Homo sapiens: one gene and its partner. The protein of the gene in region 1 interacts with the protein of each later gene in a pairwise test. Each region holds a gene or a part of one and is shown on either strand. Other genes may lie near its edges.

What was found. The genes of interacting proteins can lie anywhere in the genome.
Region 2: the proteins of STAB2 (region 1) and ITGB5 come close enough for resonance energy transfer, tested with the Homo sapiens proteins (one study listed by BioGRID).

What each region holds. Positions count from the first base shown.
Region 1 is NC_000012.12:103,585,952-103,590,072, reverse strand, and holds the start of STAB2 (stabilin-2 precursor), read right to left. Parts: upstream 2,801-4,121; 5' UTR 2,597-2,800; coding exon 2,516-2,596; intron 1-2,515.
Region 2 is NC_000003.12:124,880,866-124,884,365, forward strand, and holds part of ITGB5 (integrin beta-5 isoform a precursor), read right to left. Parts: intron 996-3,500; exon of another isoform or gene 978-995; intron 1-977.

The DNA of each region.
Region 1 (4,121 bases):
TCTTCATTTCCTCATCAAGCTTAAGATGGAGCAGCTTTGTACAACAAAGAGAGACTAAACTTGGGGATCAAAAGACCTAAGTTTGGAGTCAAACTCTATATCTTGCTAAGTGTACAATCTTGAATGAATTGCTTACCCTTTGCCATCACCTATAAAGAGGAGATATTAATAACCACTCTTGAGGTTATTGAGACCTTTAAATGATGACGGTCACTTAAGCAGGTGCAAATTTCCTGGCAAAAATGTCTGAAGTATCACAGGTGGTGAATGCTGGCTGCTGTAACTCTTCACTCACCTTTGTGCCTGTTTCCTCTCCTAACTGCCATGTTCTCACTGGGCTGCTGAACCATATCCTTCAAGACCCTGTTTCACACCACCTCTTTCACAAAACCACATTCATTTTTCTTCCTTTTCTCAACTTCTACTCTTCCTGTGGCTGGCCCAGTGGAGCACATTTTGTTGGTTTTTGCACTCCATTAAAAGACACCTGATTCTTATTTGCTAAACTCTTAGAAATATGCTGTGCCAACATGCTGAGGTAAAACTGAGCATAGAGCAGTTAGTAGAGAGAAGGGGTAGGATCTCTTGAACCCCAAACCTTGACCTTTCCAGGGCAAGGAGTCTAATCCAGGCATTTCCTGGGAAGGCAGAAAGGACCTGCCAATCAAAAAAGACATTACCAACACATTTTGAGGCCCTGCTTTTTGAACAGGTTTGCTCTAGGCCATAGGACAGAGCAGAAAGAGGTAGGCTTCTTCTTGGGCAGGATTGTGTCTCATGCTTCTGTATTATCCCACAGCTCATCCACGGGCCTAATAATAGGTTGGTCGTGGTGGAAATGTCACCACTGCTTCTAAGTTCATTGAAATATATAAAGCCTGCATAAAAAGAAACTTTACATCTTCAGAACGATTATTGGTTATGCATCCATTCAAAGGTATTATCTTATTTGATCTTCACTGCTCTGAAGATAAGTAGGGCAGGTATCATCATCCTCATTTTAGCTGGAAGAAAACTGAGGTGAGGGGTGTTGCAGTGACTTGCCCAAGGTCACCCTGTGAGTTACTGGTCTTGTGATTCCTTGATTAGCCCTTTCTCTTTCCTGCACCTGAGTGGAGTATAGAAAACTGAAATTTCTATTTTTACCAGGAGTTTTCATTTGGTGATCATCATGAACCAAAATAGCACTAGAAGGTTCTTTATTGAGTAATAACAAAAGCTACACTTAGATAGAGTTTGAATTAACCTCCTTTAATTGTCAGGACACCTTCACATTTTTTTTGAAAGCAAGCTTTTCTTTACATGAGGGTTTCACATTTGGATAAGTATGTGGGGTTACAGTACTTTGTCTTTTCTTTCTTTGTGGGCTAGATTTAAAACCCTCTTCTTAAGAAACATCTTGACCTTCAAATTGCCCTTTTCAAATGAAAAGGCTCATTGTCTGTCTCATACAGTATTGACAAAGTTGTCCTCTCTGAAAAGTAAATTCAGCTTATTTAAATTAGTTAAGGTCTGATTTCTGTGTGAATGCAAACACTTGGTGATAATGATGATGATGATGATGGTGATTAAGAAGATGATGATGGTGATGATAATTACTACCATTTGTGGAGCACTGTCAGGGGCGAGACTGAAGCTTGAAGAGATTAAAAAACGTGCTCAGGGTCAAACAGCTGTGGACGATCATGACTGATCCTCAGACCTATTTGTTAAACAGAAAAATGAGATCCACAGTTCAAACTCACCCCTACCAAATTTCAAAGCTGGAGCACTTAGCCATTAGGCCATCTTCCCATATTTTCATGAAAACATTATCAGAGCATGCAGCCAACTGTAATAAAATTGGTGTTGATAAAAATTTGCCTGGCACAGGTGCAGAATCATGGTTAAGATTCATTCTTGATGGATCAGAAATCACATGGTGTCTCACTGACAGCTGGCCTCACTCTGTGATGACACCTCGGTGAGCTTGCTTGAGGGTTCGGTGTGCTGATGTACTTCATAGGGGCTACTGGTAAGACCTCCCTGGGAACTTTTACTACAGCTCTGTGGAAGGCAGAAGAGATGAAAGGGTGAAGGCCTGATGATTTTGGAAATATTTCTGATACTTGTGTTCCTTAGTGAGATATCCACCCTGGAATTCCCCAGACCATCTCTCCACAGCCATAGTTATTTTCTAGTCAGGAAGATGGGATGGTAGATATTCACAGTAATGAGACTACTAGAACAAATGAAAAACAAGACGCCAACAGCTGCACTGGAAAGAGGATCGTTAGCACTAAGATTAGAGGTCCCAACAGCAGCGGGGCGCTTCAGTACAGGAAGAGCAACAAGTGGGTTAGCACACCTTCGGAAAGATGGTGCATCACAATTAGGACTTAGTCTCCAAAAACATTCTCTGTATTTTATAAAGTCCAGATTTCACCCTTTACCCATAACAACAGAGGAAAACGACAAGCTTTTGAACATATCATGACAATTAACAAATGAAAAAAATATGTAAGTCTCCTCTTACCTGCCCTGTGGTTTCAGCTGGGGAGCAGAAATTTTGTACAACCAATCCAAGACAAAAAATTACTAAATGTTGTAGCATCATGAGGAAATATTTGCTCCTTCTCTGTGCCAAGCACCTGTCAGGCTGACTTAGCTATTTTAACTTAGTTTGATAAACTCCCAGTGAATTCTTTCTCATTTCACTGTTTACTTTTAAATCCCTTCCTTTCCTTTTTCCTAGATCGAACCAGGAGATAGGTGAGACCTGCCTTCAGAAAGGAAAAATGGCAAATCCAGGAGTCTTGGTGAAATTGGCCACTGTAAATGGTCTATATATCCTGCTGAATGACAGGATATCCTGCAGGGGCTGAGGCAGAGGCTTGGCCCGGGATTTTTGTGCCTGCGAAGCTCTCAGAACGGTCCTGCCTCTCCTCTACTCTGCCCCCTCCTCTAGTCCTGCCTACTGCTGCCCTGCGGCCCTGTCAATGTTTCCACAACCACGCCATGGAACACTGCAGGCCTTTTGGTGCCAATGCAAAGGTCCAAGCTTGCTGTCGAGCGGGGTTGGGGGAGTGCCCATAAGTGAGCACGGTCCCAGGTATGGAATGAATGTTGCAGAAACCTTGCAGGAGGTGGTGGCTTCACCCTGGATAACCTCTACTGCAAAAAAAGTCTCCTTGCAGATGCTGACAGGTGGGTTTTTGACTCATTCTTTCTTCTTTTCCATGCCACTTCAGTAACAAGTGACTGAGCCTGTAGGTTCAATCTTACCCTTTAAGTTCCAGATCTAAAGCCACCCCTTCCAGGAAGCCTTCCTGTGCTGCCCCTCCACAGGACCCTGAAGATGCTCCCACAATTTTGCACATAAAGCCATGAAAGCCGAGGTCACATCTATCTGTCTGTCTCCCATGCCCAGCTATGAATGCCTTGAGGACAGAAGAATATAGCCTCATCTTCTCTGTACCCCTTGATTCCTAGAGCAGAGACCTGCACTTCAAAATAATGAAAACAGTTAAGGATAGTAGCCATCACTTTTTGAAAACTTACTACATGCTAGTCACTATTCTAGGCCTCTCCATGGATTTAGTTGTTTAATTCTCACAGTACTTGGTAAAACAGGATGATTCTTCTCATTTTACAGAGGAGGAAACTGAGGCAGAGAGGTTAAGGAATTTATCCAAGGCCACACAGCTAATAGGTGGTAAATCTAGTATTCAAACTATGTGGCTCCAGAGCCAGTACTGTCAACCACTGCCCTCTGCTGCTGAAACAATCAATATTTAATGAATAAATAAATAATAGATGGTATTCTCAATTCTATTGGAAACCATGATGGAAACGTGTCAGACCCAGCACCAGGAAGGATAAGGTTTGGACTTATTAACAAACCAGGGCATGTCTCATGACACTAAATTAAATGGGAGATTCATGCACTTACAGATACTAATTTTGGTTAAATGATCCTTTATTTCTCTACAAAGTTTCTCTCTCTCTCTCTCTCTCTCCCCCCGACTCCTTTCAACTTTTGAAACAACATTTATAATGACCGATAATCTAGGAAACTTTTCCAACATAGGCCCCTCAGAGGCCAGCCCAGAAACCTGGGTGGGGAGCTCAAAAAAAAAAAA
Region 2 (3,500 bases), on another chromosome or scaffold:
TTGCAGTGAGTCAAGATCACACCACTGTACTCCAGCCTGGGCAACAGAGTGAGACTCCATCTCAAAATAAAATAAAAAAGAAAGGGAAAAAGAAAAGAAAAAGTACATATGTAAAAGTTTGTTTGTTTGTTTGTTTGTTTGAGACAGAGTCTCTGTCTCCCAGGCTAGAGTACGGTGGTGTGATCTCAGCTCACTGCAACCTCGGCCTCCAAAGTTCAAGCGATCCTCCTGCCTCAGCCTCCTGAGTAGCTGGGATTACAGGTGCACACCACCATGCCTGGCTAATTTTTGTATTTTTAGTAGAGACTGGATTTTGCCATGTTGGCCAGGGTGGTCTCGAACTCCTGACCTCAGGTAATCTGCCTGCCTCGGCCTCCCAAAGTGCTGGGATGATAGGTGTGAGCCACCCTGCCTGGCCAAATCTTTTAAATAAAGTTTTTCTAAGCCCATTAAAATCCTGGGGTGAGAGAAGGGATCATCTGAGTACCAAGCATTGTGGCTGTGTCAGGGACACAGGTAAATAAGACCAGGGCTATTAACCAGGTAGCAGGTGAGACAGACCAGCTGCAGCCCCCAGTCTCTCTAATGGAATGGGCCATGAAAGCAGGAGGAGGAGGAGATAGTTCTGCTCCACCCAGGGATGTAGGGAAGGAGAACAGGATATACTGGGTATAAAAGATCAGAGGACTTGTTCTGTCACTTATTGGTTATGTGACCTAGGGCAAGTCACTTAACCTTTCCAGGCCTCAGCTTCCTCATGCAAACAACTCAGGGAGTAGACCAAATGGCCTCCATACCAGCTCAAAAAATCCTAACACAAAGCCAGGAGTGGTGGCTCATGCCTGTAATCCCAGCACTTTGGGAGGCCAAGGTGGGCAGATCACCTGAGGTCAGGAGTTCAAGACCAGCCTGGCCAACATGGTGAAACCCCATCTCTACTAAAAATTAAAAAATAAGCCAGGTGCGGTGGTGTACGCCTGTAATCCCAGCTACTCGGGAGGCTGAGGCAGGAGAATCGCTTGAACCTGGGAGGCAGAGGTTGCGGTGACCAGAGATTGCACCACTGCACTCCAGCCTGGGCAACAGAGTGAGACTCCAATTAAAAAAAAAATCCTGACACATTCCAACAGAATCTCTTTCTCCCAGGATGTTTCTTCCTAACAAGCCGCATGCATAGTCCCTGACTTCAAAGCTAGCTGTGGAAGGCAACAGGGAGTTGAGGACGGGATGCATCGCCCTCTTCACCTCCCAATTACCAAGATTCAGGTTCATCCATTATTCATTCAACAAATATGTGCCTGGTGCTGTTGTAGGCATGGAGGATACAGAGATGAATAAAACCAACAAGACTCCCTTATTCACGGAGCTCACATCCTGGCTGGGGGAGAATTCTACTTAGGGGAAATAGTGAAGAAGATATGTAGTTACATTAGATGGTGGTGAGTGCTAAGGACAAAAATTAAAGAAGAAAAGCAGATAAAAAGAACTCGGGATATAGGGAGGAGGTTGCAGCTTTAGCTGGGAGCGGCCAGGGAAAACTTGGCTGAGCAGGAGATGCTAGAAAAAGGGTTGCAGGGTGGAGGAAGCCGGTCATGCAGATATCTTGGAGGACAGTATTCCAGGCAGGGAGAAGGGCTGCCATGGGAGCATGGCTGGCACGCTGAAGGGACAGTGGGAGGCCCATGCTGCTGGAGCAAAGGATCGAAGGGAAAGTGGTGAAGGAAAGTCAGAGAAGTAGGTGGAGAGTTCGTGGAGCCTGGCAGGACTCTGGGAAACCATTCGAAGGTTTTAAGCAGAGAGATATGATCTGACTTGAGTTGGATCTCAGGATCACTCTGAGGGACAGTTGAGAATAACTAAAGAGAACAAGTTGCAGAAGTAGGTCCCAGCTCTACAAGAGACAACCAGCTCTGAAAATGTCTGGCTGGAGTTGGGGAGGGAATCCTATAAAGAGAGGGCAGGGTACCCCGCAGTGCCTTCAAAGCATCAGCCTTAGGGGATGAGTCAAGCCTGTCTTAGAGCAAACTTTTCACCATGAGGCCCGGGAAGTAAACCCTGCATTCAACGGAAGCAAGAAGCCTCAGAAACAAATGGGTGCCTCTAAATAAAGCATTCCTTTACATTTATAGAGGCCATTAATCCCATTCGAACCGGAAAGAAGGAAAACAAACCACGGCAGTCAGTTCTCCAAGGCCCTCGGCTCCAGCCAACTGGAAATACCTGTGAAAAGAGACCCTATCCCATTAACCCAGCTGCACACTGCCATGTGAAAGGGGCCCTATTATTTAAGTAGTTTGTAATTGTCCCACATTACTGATATCGTTAAAGCATCTCAGAATATTTCCATGGCCAGGCTGAATAAGAAAAAGTAGTTACCAGGCCACGCAGGCACAAAAGGCCTTTTGCCAAACTACTTAGATATTTTAATTCCCCGTTGCCTCAGTAGCTAAATAAGCATGGAGAACAAGCAGGCGGGGAATACTAATTAGAGCTAATTAGACCCTGCCCTCTTCTGCCTCAATCCCCTTTATAAAAAGCTCCCCCAACTCAAGGATGATGGAGTTAAAATGTAAATCCATAGGATAAACAGCAGTCTACAGACCAAACCCACTGTTTGTATTTCATTGTCCTGTCAGCTCTAAACCTGTGCCTGGTTACCTACAGAGAGCTGCAGACCCAGCCAAATTCCAACAACCCCATCACAGACCACAGGAAATGTGGTAGGGGGTTGGGGGTAGAGGAAGGGTGCTGCCAACATGAGTCCACTAAATAAAACAAAGGGCTTTCTTAGGATGTGCAGAGCATTCACTAGAAGAACATTCGATTGCTTTTTTAAAAAGAAATGAATGTGATAGCACACATAATTCCAGCGGTGTTGCAGGATCCTCTTTATAAGACGGTGTTCCTCTCTCTGTCTTAGCAAAGGCAGCGTGGAAAAGCCTCACCTCAGTGAGACCCCTGGTTTTGTGGGAAGACCACATCCTAGGATTCTGTCTGAAGGCTCTTGGCCATAAGATAATAAAAAGAGCAGGAGATAGCCCTTGGTGGGGACGGGAGGGGGTTGTCAGCCGGCCAGGGACTTGTTTGAAATGAGCCCCTGAAACCTAAGGTCAGTTTCCTGCTGGAAATCCGTACTGAGATGAAAGTGGGGTTAGAGCAACAGAGAGAGGCACTCAACCACTGGTCCAGGAACACCCAGGCAGGCATGGCCCTGAGGGTCATCTCTTTCTTTTCTCTGAGTAACTAGGTTTTTTTCTTTCAAATAATGTTCCTAGTGGCAAGACAGAAACACTCCCTGAATAAAGTACCTGTAGTGCTTCAAGAAAACAAAGAAGGGAAGGGAAGCAAAAAAAAAAAAGAAAAAAAAAAAGAATGTTGAAGTTAATTCAGCAACACTGAAAAACTAGGAGAAATGACACAGATGTGAGTCAACCTCTGCTAATCCTGAGAAGCTTCAGGGCCCTAAGAGGTAAGCAGCAAGTTCTGGAGGCCAGTGCCAT